Homo sapiens: one gene and its partner. The protein of the gene in region 2 interacts with the protein of the main gene of each other region in a pairwise test. Each region holds a gene or a part of one and is shown on either strand. Other genes may lie near its edges. The genes, in order: THAP12 and MAPKAPK3.

Region 1 (7,879 bases), on a different chromosome or scaffold from region 2:
TCACATTTTATTTAGATTGAAATAAACTATACAAAATTGATTTTCTTCACCAAAAATAACAGCAATATTTTCCATATTTTTCTAGATAAACCACAACACTTATTTTGTAGGTTTTCCAGGTTTTGCTTATAAATCAAGATGAGGCAGTATATAAGAGTCATGGAAAAAGACAGAGAAAAAAAACAGACAAATCAGTTGTCAGTATCCATGGCCTCTGATTCTGTCTCAACCATGAAACAGAAGTGTTCAACATATACCTGCTAAAAAGCTTAGGAAGATGTAGGCTCCACAAAGGAATGTAAACAGCAACGAGATGTGGAACAACAGCAGGCTTTTCCATTCAAACTTTGTCATTTGTTTCTTTAAGTTCAAGAAAGACAAAATCTACACTGAAATCCTTGTTTGGTGAGCTCACAAGCTTTTCTCCGGTAATTTCTTGTAACTGTCCAGTATAGATTTTTAACATACTTAAAACTCCTATTAGTCAAAGGTCAATTGTGGGCTTCACTACAACATTTTATAAAATGTATTCCTTCCTCCCACACCTCTTCAAAATATATTTCTTCAAAGAATTCATAACACCCAACAAGTAGAGATCCACAGTGATAATAAATGCTATGTCTAAAATGACTTAACTGAAACAATTCCAGAGTGCCATCAACAGAGATCACGCAAAAGGAAACATGGCACTTTCAACGTTCTCTTCTGGAAGAACAGGTAGGTCTTCAAAGCTTGAGAGTTCAAACAGGGGCCATTTAAACAGGTAGATTATCAATGGCTAATGTATTCAATGGAGTCCTATAGGCAAAGATATTTAGTGATTAAGTGGTCTACATACACCTTACGGCTTTTTCTTCCAAATATCAAATATAAGAAAGCCTATTTTTAAAAGTCTCTTAGGTATTTTCCACAGTTTCGGAATTATCTGTAGGAAGCTCTGACTTACTTGTATAGAGTTTAATATATGTGTCCACCATTAAATCCAGGTCGTGTTTTATATCAAAATTTATGTTAAGCAAAGCCAAGTTACTTGACCTTTGGTCTGTCAAAGTGTTCCTCAAATATGCTTTAAGACGCTTTCGTCCATTTTCATACCGCTCATTCTCAACCTTCATCACAGGAAGAATACACAGGACCTTCAGCAATGCATACACATTAGGAAAAAACTTGATGTCAGGCAGGTGGAGGGCTTCATAGATGGTGGACGGAAGCTCTATATCTTTCCCCCTGTGTTTCCATTTGATTCTCCAACAATGAAGCTCAGCTGACAGCGTGTCAGGATTGGGTAAGTCACTTCTATACATGTCAGCATGGTGTTCCTCCGACGTATTGAATTTGAGTTGTCCCATGACTGAGGGTACCAGAGATAAGCATTTAAGAGCTTTGAGGTGCTGTTCTGAGAATATATCTTTAAGTTCCTGAATAATGTGCTCCACTGTTGGGACACTTAGGGTTTCTTTATAGTAACTCTCAGAGGTTAGCTGAGATTCCAAGTTACCCTGGTGAGCTCTGCGGAATTTCCCAGGGAGTTTCATTTGAATATCAAGTTTGGTTGCCAAATTTGTGGCTTCCTCAAACCAAAATTCATGATAAACTTCAATATTTTCCATCACTTCGTTGAGTGAATGCAGTACTGCAGTCAAGCTACCGGCCGCAAAGAAGACATCAGAGGTTTGCCCCTGGAGGTTTTTCCCAAAGGCTCTTGTAAAAGATAGGACATTTTTAAGAACAACAATAGTAACAATGAAATCAAAATCTGACACTGCACTGCAGAGTACAAATGCTCGGCCAGCTATATAGTTATTCCATCTAATATTTGTGTCACTATTTATACCATCTAAACATAAAACAAGTGCTTGCAGGAGTTCCACTAAAATTTCAAAAGCATCATGCCTGCCTGTCCACTGAGAATGGCAGATTTCCTTCAGTTCTTTACCCCTTTCTTTACTGTTCTGAAAAAGAACAGAAATTACGTTGTCAAGTTCTAAAAGCAGTTGTGGTGATCGATGGAAAAAAGAACAAACTTCCTCAATTGTTCCTAATGCAACAGATACTCCCATAACAGGTACTGATTTTGCCAACCACATATTTAAGGCACAGGAAGAGCAGAGTGTGTAGATAGCTTGGGGATATTTCTCTAAAAGTCTAGAAGCAACAACTTTCATTTTGGAAGAAAATCCACTAGAGACAATGTAAGCCTGGCCACGACAATACTCCATATTTAATCCCCACTTCTCAGTTATCATAGTGTGAAATTTCACAGCCAAAATTTCTGCATCGGCTTCATAAGGCAGGAAGCCTATAAATTCCTCTCTTAGGTTATGAGATTCATCAACAAACCTCACCAACACAGGTAGGTGCTCTTCCCCTGCTATGTCCACTACATCGTCAGTGATAATGGAAAAGAAGTGTGAGTCTCTCACTTCCCTGAGAGTTTCTTCTCGAATACAGCTCTCACAGATCTCTAGCATCTGCCTCTGCTGTGTTTTTGAACAAAACAACGTGTTAACTGCTGTTGTCTCAAACCGCTTTCTCAGAACCTCTTCACCAGAATTTATCCGACACTCCAGCAGTGCCTGAAAGTTATCTGGAGTAAAGAGACCTTCTGGGATTTCATCAGCCTCATGTCCATCCAGAGGTATGTTTTGCTTTCCCATCAGAATCAAGATTTCAAATAGAGATTTTAGGTATTCTTTGTTTTCCTTCTCTTCAAGGGTTAGAGGTAAAATGTCCTCATCTTGCCCTTCACCCTCTTCTTCGCTGGGGTTCTGAGCATTGCTATTGTTGGTTTCTTTATGTTTTTGTTCCTGCTCAGAAGTTTCATCAACTGGAAAACAAAGAATTAATTTTACAAACAGGCTCATGAAAAACCATACACAACAAAAAATATTACATCTTTGGTTAAATATTTAAAATCCACAAACTCATTCATTCAATATTCATAGGGTATTTACTAGACCACAGACTAGGACAGAGATTAAAATAAGACACTAAGATAAGACACATCCTAGTGGGAGAGACAAACAGTGTAAAGAGATATATTTTAATCCTAGATGTAAATGCTGTTACAAGATAGGAATAATTTTTTTTTTTTAAGAAGTAGAGCGGGGAGTCTCACTATGTTGCCCAGGCTGGTCTTGAACTCCTGGCCTCAAGTGATCCTCCCACCTCAGCTCCAAAGTACAAGGATTAAAGGTGTGAGATACCACATCCGGCCTAATTTTTAAAATACACTTAACAAGACTTTCCACATATGTAATGAATGACAGTCCATGCCCTCAGAAAAACAAAGTGGGACAGAACTAATTACTAAGGTACTGTGCTTAGTATTTTATATGCATCACATTACTCTCTGTTCAGGCAGGTGGTATCGGCCCCACTTGACAAACAAGGACACTAAGTAACTTGCCCAAGATCACAAATACAGTTAGAAGAATGGAAGTAAAGTTGAAATCCAAGTGCGTCTGGCTCCAAGATCCATGCTGATGCTGTTTTTATCAAACCATTATGCCACACATTTATATGGGAGATGGGACAGCTGTACAAACCAGTATAATATAAAGGAGATTAATGTAACTCTTAGGGCTAGTATTAGAATATCACACATCTTAGCCTAATCTCTTCACAGGGGATAGGAAAACTGAGGCCCTACAGGCTAAATGCCCTGCCCATAGTCATACAGGTCAGTGGTGTCTGCAGGAAAATAATCCAAATCTGAGGAGGCACAGTTAAAACCTAGTTCTTAGAACATAAGACTAGGGCCGGGGGTGCAGTGGCTTACGCCTGTAATCCCAGCACTTTGGGAGGCTGAGGTGGGTGGATCACGAGGTCAGGAGTTTGAGACCAGCCTGGCCAATATGGTGAAACCCCATCTCTACTAAAAATACAAAAATTAGCTGGGCGTGGTGGCACATGCCTGTAGTCCCAGCTACTCGGGAGGCTGAGGCAGGACAATTGCCTGAACCCAGGAGGCAGAGGTTATAGTTAGCCGAGATCGTGCCACTGCACTCCAGCCTGGGCAACAGAGTGAGACTCCGTCTCAAAAAGAAAAAAGACTATGGAGGGCGGTGGGGAGAAACAAAAATTCAGAAGTTGCATTTGATGACAAGGATAAATAAGGGGGACATGAACAAGGAGGGCATTTCAGTTGGTGAGAATTATTCTAGCACAAGCACTAAGGTAGAAGAGGGAAGCAGGCTGCCCAAGTACAAAGGGAAATCTAGTCTGACCGGAGCCTGTGTGAGCCATGCTTCAGAGCTTCATAAGGGTTCAGAAAAATGCAGGGAGCATCCTTCCTTCACCCCTCCTCAAATCAGATGACACTGCTATTCATTATATGTGACACAGCAGTGGTTCTATACTAGGGAGGCTTCCCAAGCCAGAAAGCAAGAGGTTATCCTGGACGCCTGCCTGTCTGGCTCCCTCCCTCTCTCCTCCATTATTTCTCCACTTCCAATTAACAAGTACTAATTCTCTTGCTTTTATTTTTTTCAAAAAGAAGTTCATTAAAGAGCAAAGAGTTCAAACTGAAAAGTCAAGTCCCTCTTCTTTTGGACATCTTTTTAGGTGTCATAGGTATACAAATTTCTTAAGTTCCTTGAATCTATTCCCTTTACTCTCTCTACCATTGCCTTAATTCAAGGCCTTTCAACTTTTATTTGGTCAGTTGACAGTCTAACTAGCCTCCATGCCTCCAGTGTTACCTTTTCTAATCCAACAGAGTACTCTATGTACCATGGAAATCAGGTCCCTGTTATCACCTACTTATAAACCCCTCAGTGGTTCCCTATTGCTAATAGCCCACAAGTCTGCAAGTTCTGGCCTCTGGGGTCCTCTCTAGGCTATTTTCTAACCATAATGGGTTATCACAAACTTTAACAACACTAAAATGAGTGTAGTTCCCCAAAACAGCACCCTGTTTCGTGCACAGAATACCTTTCCCTCTCTTTGCCCAAGTCCATATCTCCTCATCCATAAAGAGGGAAATAACAGTACTTATCTCACGGCTATTGTGAGAATTAAATTAATTAATACAAGTAAAGCACTTAGAACAATGATTTGGCATCAGTAAGCACTCAATAAAATGCTACGTTAATAATAACAGCAATAGGAGGAAGAAACAGAGGAGGAGGAGTAACTAATAACTGACAAGAAGAAAAACAGCTTCTAGCCCTCGTCCTTTGGTGACATAATTCGGACATCAGCACCTCCAGAAAGGCTGTTGTGACCACTACTCACAATGGCACTATGTGCCCCCACAGCATTTAGTCCTTAAACATTTACAAAGAATTTATTACATACCACAACTGGGTGGACAGAAAAAGAGATTCAGTGCATGCCTCTACTGTTGCCCTTCCTTCCCTACAATGGAGCACTGTGTGCCTGCCACCCCTACCACACTGAGAGAGGAGGCGTCACCTCCATGAGGCCTGCATATAGCATAGTGTGTGGCATTGCAGCACTCAATAAAGACAAACTAAAATTAGACTTTAGTCTCATAGATAATTCCAAAACACAGGACAAAATTGAGCACACTCCTACATTCATTCTCAAGGTAGGTTTTCAACACAGAACATATTTATTTGTCCTTACCAGGTCAAGGCCTTTTTAAAAGGCATTCAGAAGTTGAGTCATTAACACTATCACTTACTTTTTTTCTGTTTCAGTGTCCTGATTTCATCTTCACTCTAAATGTCAAGAAAAAAAAAGAAAAAAACAAATCATCTTTAAAAAACTGACCTCTAGTGTATCATCTTAGACTCACAAATACAAATGCCTATTCTGAGTCAATTTAATTCTTTCAAGAGCATAAATTCTTTATATAGTACACATTCTTCAAACAAACAGACAATGAGAAAACCAGAATAAGCTGTTAATGACTCCAAGGTTATAACAAAGTCTTAGGGAAAAAAGAATACATCATTTTGCTTATTTTCTACCTAAATCATCGTAACTTTGGGTTATAAGTGTTTACTGGCTAATGAAAGGCACAAAAATACACCATGGCACTTGGAGTTAAATTCAAGAGGACACAAATCATCTTACTTCCCAATTTAACCCTGGAGATGTCCCATAAGAAGGAGGTTGCTGAATCTCAGGACTCAACACAAAAGTGATGAGAAATCCCTGAGAAGCAGAAGGTGAAAGTACCAGCATGGAAGAGATACACAGAGCATACACAGAGCATAGTAGGCCAAGTGGCACCAATAGGGTTAGACAAAGGAAGAACTTTCCAGCTGCATCCTTTACTTTCCTTCCAACCCTCTACAATGCTTAAATCATGAGCCACCTGTTACTTTCTGTGGCAGAAAAGCAGCAATGCCAGTGACAGCTGAAGACAGCAGGATGCCTGTTGGGCAGCACTGGACATGGTGCTGATAACAAGAAACATCAGCAGGCTGGTCAACCTGGACATCCCCTCCTTATCCTACGGACTGCACGTTTATAAGGATGGTGGGTCAGGAAGAGTATGCCTGCTGTGAGATATGTGAGGCTCTCTGAGGGACAGACTACAGGGAAATGATAGCTACAGGACAGCAAGTGATTGAGCTCCTCATCCTGATACATATTACACTTCATATCTATGGATTTAACCAACCATGCATTGAAAATGCTGGGGAAAAAATGGATGGTTGTATCTATCTTGAACATGTACAGACTTTTTTTCTCATTCTTCCCCTACATAACGTAGCATAACTATTTACATAGCATTTACATTGTAGTAGGTGTTACAAACACATAAATGTATTAAGTATCATAAATAATCTAGGTATTATTTGAAAATGGATGGTTGTGCCGGGCATGGTGGCTCACGTCTGTAATCCCAGCACTTTGGGAAGCTGAGGCGGGAGGATCACCTGAGGTCGGGAGTTCAAGACCAGCCTGACCAACATGGAGAACCCTCGTCTCTACTAAAAATACAAAAAGAGCCGGGCGTGGTGGCACATGCCTGTGATCCCAGCTACTCGGGGGGCTGAGGCAGGAGAATTGCTTGAACCCGGGAGGCGGAGGTTGCGGTGAGCTGAGATCGCACCCTTGCACTCCAGCCTGGGCAACAAGAGCGAGACTCTGTCTCAAAAAAAAAAAAAAGAAAAGGATGGTTGTGTCTATACTGAACACACAGATTTTTGTTCTTGTCATTATTCTCTAAACAATGTAACAGAACAACTATTTACATAGCACTACATTGTATTAGGTATTATAAATGATTTAAAGTCACGGGAGGATGTGTGTAAGTTATATGCAAATACTACACCACTGTATATAAGGGAATCAAGTATCTGTGGATTTTGCTCTCTGAGGGAAGCTCCTGGAATCAGTCCTCCATGGACACCAAGAAGAAAGCTGATATGGAGGACTGTAATGTAAGTGTCAGTATTCATCTAAGTCCCAGGAAAATAGAAATAAACAAATAGAGGGGAAAATGCATAAAGAAAAATAAAAACTAAGGATTTCTCAGAATTTAAGGTGTAAGTCCTCAGTTGTAAGATGACAAATTAAGGTACATAAAAAAAAAACTCACATCTAGATACAGGTTAGCAAATTTTAAAATGTCAAATATAAAGAAACCTTCTAAAAAGCTTTGAGGGAGAAAAGAAGATTACCTAAAAAGGAACAAGAATCAGGCTGGCACAGACTTGAATAGCAATAATGGATGCAAAAAAATCAGAAAGAATCAACATCACATAGACTATATGTATCCTCTACGTATCTCTTAATAACATTTAAAATTTAAAATATCATATAGCAATTAAAAATAATTCCACATCTGGAAACTAAGAAAAACAATCCTATGTTAACAAAATAGAGAAATTACAAAATACCTACAGCCAGACATGACAACACTATATGTCTAAAGTTGTAGGGTATAGCTAAAATG
Region 2 (7,879 bases):
TGTGGGAGAGGCATCCTGGGGCACCCTCTGACCAGTCTCTATGCTGTCTGTCTACTTGCAAGATCAGCACCAGCAGTGGGCAAGGCAGGCCCCCACGACCTGCCTGCTTCCCTGGCACTGCCGATGATCATTGCCCACCTAACATGTCTTCACAGCCAAAAGGGAGGCCTTTGCCAAGCAGAGCACCCAGGCCCTCATTTTTTTTTTTTTTTTTTTTTTGAGATGGAGTTTTACTCTTGACTCCCAGGCTAGAGTGCAATGGCGCAATCTCAGCTCACTGCAACCTCCATTTCCCGGGTTCAAGTGATTCTCCTGCCTCAGCCTCTCAAGTAGCTGGTATTACAAGCATGTGCCACCTCACCCAGCTAATTTTTCTATTTTTAGTAGAGACGGGGTTTCACCACGCTGATCTCGAACTCCTGACTTCAGGTGATCCACCCGCGTCAGCCTCCCAAAGTGCTGGGATTACAGGCATGAGCCACTGCGCCCGGCCCAGGCTCTCATTTTGCTGATGAGCAGACTGTGGCTCCTGATCCCCAGAGGAGCACACACGCAGAGAGGAATGGCTGAGAGCCAGGCCTGGGTTCCAGCACAGGGCCATGTCCATACTACGTGACCCTGGGTGAGTTACTCTGCCTTTCTGAACCTGTCTCTGCATCCATGGCATGGGCGTGATAATCCATTCTGATTCTGCAGTGTTTGTGCCTGACATGTAGGAGGCACTCAGCAAGTGGGTGCCCTTATTGCCATCCCCCTGCCCCCTGTGCCACTGCCTGCCAGAAAGCACGGAGAACACCTGCCAGTCCTTCTACCACATCCTGAGAAGGGGGCTGTTAATGTTGGGTGAGCATCTGTGGATGAGCTATGGGTCTCTTGTGGAGGCTGAACCCTTAAGAATGGGGAAATGAGTGTGGCAGCTCAAGGTCCTGGTCCCTCAGGCCCCTGAATGTAGCCTCTGAGCCTTAGCAGGGCAAGGGTGGTCAGGTGCAGGGTGCCAGCTAGAGAGTCTTGAGTGTTCACACCAGCTAGTGCAGGTGCAGCTCACACTCAGCTCTGCCCTCTGTAAAAATGGCGGTAGGTTGCACCTCATACCTTGAGCCCTCCCAGACTCCCACCAGCTCCTCTGGCTGGCTCTAAGGCTCTGACTCAGGTCAGATCTCAGCCCTGTCTATACCTCACTGTGGCTAGGGAACCCTTGGGGGTCGTACTGTGCCTAGTCCCACACAATTGTCCCAAGCAAAAGTCTCAGACCATTGGGCCGTAAAAGGAGACCCAACAGCAGAGACTGCAGCTGAAGTTGACTTCACACAAGCCATGGGGGGGTGGCGGGGGACCTCCTCAGGTTACAGCTCAGCCCAAGAACTCCTGAGTCCACTGTTCTGACTGCCAAGGCTGCTGACACCTGGTCAAGGCGGGCAGCAGGAGGGGACACTGTGAGTGGCATGGGTACAGCACTCACTCCTCCTTCCTTCCCCACCCCCACCCTCCCCTGGGGTGGGGGTGGGGGAGTGAGCTGCCCGCTGACCAGGATGAGTCCTTAGCACCTGACCTGGCCCTGCTCTGTCCTCCGCCTGCCCTCAGCCTGCCAGGCTGCAGAAAAGAGGCCATGAGGCCTGAAACACACGAGACAGGCAAACTGGCAAGGCCCGGGAGAGCGGGGACAGAGCGATAGCAGGAGAAACAGGTGGAAAAGGAGAAATGAGAGGGACGAGGAGGCAGAGGACAGAAAGATCGCTAGTGCCATGAGGAGAAGGCAGCAAAGACAAAGCCCTAGTCTAAAGAAAAAGGCAACCCTAATCCCAAACCCGCCTCAAAAACAAAAGCAATCTTTTCAGCATCTCTGGCCTGTCTAGTGCTGAAAGGGCCTCCTGAGGCTCCTTGTTCCCCAAACGGGAGCCTCGTGTTCCTGCTCTAAGCCAAACCTCCACGGTTCCCACACAGCAGGATTTTAATCACAATTGCACAGGGCCTAATCCACTTAGTTCCAAACGGGCAGGAGGGTGGGGAGGAGCCCAGGACCCAGAGCTCCCTTCACGCCATTCTTTCCTGTCCCTCAAGGGGCTGGGTTCCCCAGGTGCAGGGCGCACCCAAGTGAGTCCTCATAAAAACCAATAATGTTTCACCAGCAAATGCACCCAGGCCACCCCAAATGAGAGCCCTGCCTTCTGAGTGTCTGCCGGCCTATGTTGTCTCATAGCATGAATGCAGGGATAGTAACAGTCACCGAGACTGGATCCTACTCCCCACCACATATTCAAACCCAGGGTTCAACTGCACCACAAAGATGATGGTTTTGCAAAAGATTATGAAACTGCCTTTAGTCCAAAGTCACTTGGGGAGAATGTCACAGAAAGCATTTTAAGCCGAGAGCACTGTTCCTCTCTCAACCCCAAGATGGGGCCTTTCATCTGGGACCACACAAGATGTCCAATAGATGGAGGGAGAGCAGTAGAACTAATGTTCTCCAGGGAAAACACCAGTGCTCACAGGAGCCATGGTCTCACTGTCCTGAGAGCAGCAGAGCCAGCTCTCCAGGAAGCGCTTTGTGCACACTCTCATGGCACAGGTATGCTTGGAATGCCTCTCACCTAGGGATGTCCTCAGCTCTTGCCCATGGGCCTTCACCATTAGACATGGCAGCCTGGAGCCAAGGGAGGTTGCGGGCTTACAGAGCCAGATGTTCCAACTACTGCCTCCACCCAGAGATCTTCCATGATGATGTCCCCAGCAGAGGAAAATGAGGGATCTAACTCCACTTCCCCAGGTGTGAAGCTCAGAAGAGATACAACAGACCTCTGTTGTAATGAAAACTGAGTCCTTCCCATATAGTCTGAACAACAGCCCAAGTGACCCAGGAGTCCCTGCAGCACCCTCAGCAATGGTGCTCTACCCTTCAAGGCCCTACACAAACGCCTCTTCCTCCACAGATTCCTCTGGTCCTCCCTCAGCTTCCCAGTCTTTGTCAGGACTTTGACACCGGCCCTGCTGAGGTCAACCACATCCTGCCAGAACACAGGTCTGCGAGTGGGAAACTGGTACTCCACAGCAGGTGCTGAATGTCTAAACCAGGCATATTGTCACACACATGCACACACACATACACATACACACACACACACACACACGTGAGTGCACACACACACAGGCACACACATACACCCTGTGCCTTCCTCTGTCATCCACATCCTTCTCAAACCAGAGGTCTGAATTAAACTGGCAACCTCTTCCAGGAAGCCTCTCCTAGCTGGCCCAGCCCAGATACAGTTTCCACTCGCCCACTCACCAGTCTGATTTCCTGCCCGTGGTGCTCTGGGCTCTGCCCAGCTGCACTTGTCTGAGACTCACAAGGCCTGGGAAAAGGCACACGACCTTTCTGAGGTGGCCTTCACAGTCATCATGGTCCTTGTGTGCTGGCCTCATGGGACTGCCACCTGTCCAATCACTGGCACAGAGTTCCATACAGTGAGGAGGACTGAGCAGATGTAGGTAGACACTGGCAGCATCACTCAGGGCCCAGCTGGGGCTGCCAGGGCTCCCAGTGGAGCCAGAGAGGACAATGCCAGCATCTTTCCAAGGACCAAGTCTCAGAGACCCTCCCGTGTCCCCACAGACTTGCATGAGGAGTGAGATGACTTAGATGCTAGGACTCTGGCATCAAACTGCCTAGGCTCACAGCTCAGCCCTGCTACCCACTAGTTGAGCACTTTGGGCAAGCTGCTGACCTCTGAACCTCATCCATATAATGGGAGTGATAAGAGTTAGGTAAGACAACTCATTCTGTGCCTTGTTGTGCACTGTGGACAGGGCCCGCTGGGCAGAATGCTCTGAAAAACTGTTAGCCGTTTATGGGGGTATCAGAATCCACAGCACCAAGGCCTGAATCCTGGAGAGCTGGCATCAGTTCCTAGATGGGATGGGAAAAGATCCTAGAAGCCCCAGCAGAGGTGATCCTGAGAGTAGGCTGGGAGCACAGCTTCGAAAACAGTAAGCAAGGCCAGCCAGGCACGGTACGAACCATCTCAGAACAATCAACCTCTGCCTAAAATTCCACTATTTGCATTTTGTAGGGTTTGATGCCCTCCCCAGGATCTTCATGAAAAAGCAAATTGCTCATCCCTGGCAGTTAACACTCTGGCTCCTCAGATTCTTTCCTTCTAGGTAAGGAGCAGCGTTGGGAGAACCCAGGGGGCAGTGAAACTATTTCCAGGGACTCTATTGTACCGGCTGCATAGTCCCTCCATGTGCCTCCTGATTTGTTGACTCTAACAAGTGGCCCTGCAGAGGCTGATCTGACCGGTCTGGAGATGGTAGGTGAGGGGATGATGGCTGCCAAATGAAAAAGGGCCTGGCCTGCCTGGCAGCTTCACCTGGCTTCAAATCCAGCTCAACAGTACCAGCCCCAACAGGCCAGCCTCACCCTTGGAGCAGTGGGCACCATCCCCCCAGGGAGAGTGAGGCATCCAGGGTACTGGGCTCTGGATCCATTGCTTCCCAGTCTCTGCATCCATCATGTTCTATCTTCCTTTTGGCATTCTGGTTATACAGAGCCCCTCTGTCTACTCAGAGGTGCAGCCTGGACAGCAGGCAGGGAGCAGAAATGGCCTCATGAATGGGCATTTCCTTTCTCCCAGGAATTCTCCATGAGGTCTATTGAGGCAGTGGAACTGTTAGATTCCATTGTGAATTCCCAGATCTTAGGAGAGTAGAAATAGCATTTCTCTGTGGCTTATCTCTGAGCTGTAATCAAAGAACCCCTCTCCTGTGGAGAAGGTGCAACCTGGAAAAAGTCCAGCTCCTGATGCTCCTTCCAAAGCTCAGAGGGGCCAGAGCCTGGTCATTTTCATAAGCATTCATGAATCTCTGATATATGCCAGGCCTTGGGCCTAGGTGCTATAAAAGAGCTTTGAATCAAAGGGGAGTATTATCAAAGGGGTCAAAGAAGGTTCCATTGCCCCAAAGCCAGGAACTCTGGGCAGCTTCCTGGAAGAGGTGGCACTGGGGCTGAGTCTTGACAGATGAGAAGAAATTCTTCAGTGCTGGAGAAGGAAAGATGTCACCTAAAGTAGAAAAGGGAGGTGGGCTGGACTGCAGAGACTTTGAATGCCACAGTTAGAGGCTCAGAACATACACAGCCAAGTCCCAGCATCCCTGTGTAATCTCAAATCCCTGTGAGATCTCCTCCTGGTCTCCAGAGCTTAGTTTCCCATCTGTCAGGAGAAATATGCCCTCTTCTGTGTTGTGCTTTGAGGCATCACTGAGATCCCACATGCAGAGCAGCCTGGCTCACGGAAGCCAACTGGCATCAAGGGGAAGGAAACTGTCCCAGAGGCAGCAGCCCCAGCAACCTCCCCAGATCCTGGGAACCAGAAGGAAGATGGCTGCTACAAAGACTTGACCCAGAGGACTCTGCAGAGGTCTCCTGGACATGTGGATCCACCACCCCACCACTCTACTCTCCTTAACAAAGAAGGGAAGAAGAGGGCACTGGGAGCCTAGAAGAGCCTCCAAAATGCTTTAGGGGTCAGAGGGGAAGAGCCCCCAGCCCCACAGTCCATAACACAGGGGCAGGAAAGAAGACCCCACCATTATGTCTCCATAAGGCCTTTTATTGCTTTTCTTTCTTTCAATTTTTGAGATGGGTCTCACTCTGTCACCCAGGCTGGAGTACAGTGGCATGACCACAGCTCACTGCAGCCTCAAACCCCTAGGCTCGAGCAATCATCTTTCCACCTCAGCCTCTTGAGTAGCTGGAACTACAGGTGTGTGCCACCACACCTGGCTACTTTTTTTTTTTTTTTTTTTTTTTGAGACACAGCCTCACTCTGTCACCCAGGCTGGAGTGCAGTGGCGTGATCTCGGCTCACTGCAACCTCCGCCTCCCAGGTTCAAGCGATTCTCCTGCCTCAGTCTCCCCAGTAGCTGGGATTACAGGCGCCCGCCACTGTGTCCAGCAAATTTTTGTATTTTTATTTTTAGTAGAGACAAGGTTTTGCCAGGTTGGCCAGGTTGGTCTCGAGCTCCAGACTTCAAGTGATCCTCCCGCCTCAGCCAAAGTGCTGGAATTACAGGCATAAGTCATCATACCCAGCCCTAATTTTTAAATTTTGTGTAGAGATAAGGGTCTTACCATGTTGCCAAGACTGGTCTTAAACTCCTGGACTCAAATGATCCTCCTGCCTCAGCCTCCCAAAGTGCTGGGATTACAGGCACAAGCCACCGCACCCAGCCTATTGCTTTTATTTAGAGATACTAAGTGCCATGGTCACTTCTGCCTGCCAAGAGGCCAAAAACCACAAGAGGGCTGGGCAGGATGTCAGGAGGGGAGAAAATTCGGGCCTCTGCTACACCCCCCACTTCAAACCGTGTGACTCACTTTGGGTCCCAATTTTCATGTATGTGATAAAGTTTGAAGGACTGGATCTTGGATGTGGTGGGGTAACTGATGTGTGACAAATCTGCAGGGCTGTGCCCAGTTAGAGGGAAAGCTGAAGGTACTAATTAACTAGTTAAGCCTGGGAGAGGGCACAAGCAAGAGGTCAGCAGGAGAAGCAGACACTGGAGGACCGCCTGGCCCATACACCCTCTCCAAGAAAGGCAGTCCTCCAGTTCCTGCCAAGAGGACAGCAATGAGGGCTTGGGGTACAATGGAGTAGAATGGCTGCACTGGCAGCAGAAGGTAGCCTTGGGAGGGAGCCACTGAGTATGACTGAGGCCAAGATGAACCAAGCAGGTGGTCAGGGGCTAAGGGAAAGCGGAAGAGGCCCAGCTCCCTGGGAGGGAGGGACCTGCTCCTCTAGGGCCTCCACAGAATAGCAACAGTTACAAGGACAGTGGCCACAGCTCTTCCTGTTTTATGAGTGTTTGCTGAGTTTCAGGCTTCCTGTTAAGCACTATCTTCCATCTTGGGCAACAGAGCCAAGAGGATGAGCATGAGACAAATGGGCAGAGATGGCCTGAACAAGGTCAAGTTATAAGATGAGGACAGGCCACCCTGGTTAACCTGGAGTACATCACCAGGGAGGCAGAAAGACACAGAGCCCACGACTGTTGCCTAGGCTGAGCTGGGGCAACTGCGGGGAGAGGGCTAGGCAGATGCAAGGAGAGGACTGTGATCCATCATGAGCTGGCTAAGCTCCCTGGGCCCAGGCCTGCCCATGTACTGAGGTCCCCAGGTCCTGGTCTTCCTGGGCAATGGGCAGAAGCTATAAGTGGGGAGATGTCACCTTCCTCCTCGTGGCCACAGCTACCACTCACAAGACAGGTAAAATAACTGTACCAGAGGTTGTGCTTAGCCCAATATTGGGAGATAGTAAATGCCTGCTTAGCTGGGTAAGGACTTCTAGGCTTGGTCACTAGTGATACTAAGAACAGGAAGGTCCTGGAGTGGGAGCCACATCTAATCCATGTCCCCTTTGAGGGCCAATTTAGGGCCAGATCCTGAAGGTCCCAAGCTAGTAGCCTTAGCCATGCTCACCCATAAAGGGGTACAGAGGGAAATCCACTCCAGGCCTGACCCAATTCCCAGTCCAGAACAAGGAGAGCACTGATGAGGTGCTGTGGAAGTTCTTGCAGTCAGAAGTTACCCCAAGTCACTCATCAGACATAGCATCTATGGGGAAGGGGTTAAGTCCAGTCTTACTTAAAGCTGGCACTGTGTGGGCCTACAAATTCTGGTCTCCCACCCCATCCCTGACTCACCCACAGCATCTGGACACCACAGGGGCTGGTCAGAGCTCAGTCTTGGCCCACAGGGTCAAAGCCTTGGTATTAAGAAGTGGGTCTCTGGCCTCAATCCCTCACCCACCCAGCCTGCCCTCAATCCTAGCACAGGTGGAAGGTTAAATAGTGCCCAGAGGGGGATGAAAACTCTCATTCCTCA

The links.
Region 1: the proteins of MAPKAPK3 (region 2) and THAP12 interact in a two-hybrid assay, tested with the Homo sapiens proteins (one study listed by BioGRID).

The regions. Positions count from the first base shown.
Region 1 is NC_000011.10:76,349,968-76,357,846, forward strand, and holds part of THAP12 (52 kDa repressor of the inhibitor of the protein kinase), read right to left. Parts: intron 5,688-7,879; coding exon 5,651-5,687; intron 2,828-5,650; coding exon 897-2,827; 3' UTR 1-896. UniProt on the Homo sapiens protein: Upstream regulator of interferon-induced serine/threonine protein kinase R (PKR). May block the PKR-inhibitory function of DNAJC3, resulting in restoration of kinase activity and suppression of cell growth.
Region 2 is NC_000003.12:50,619,525-50,627,403, reverse strand, and holds part of MAPKAPK3 (MAP kinase-activated protein kinase 3), read right to left. Parts: intron 1-7,879. UniProt on the Homo sapiens protein: Stress-activated serine/threonine-protein kinase involved in cytokines production, endocytosis, cell migration, chromatin remodeling and transcriptional regulation.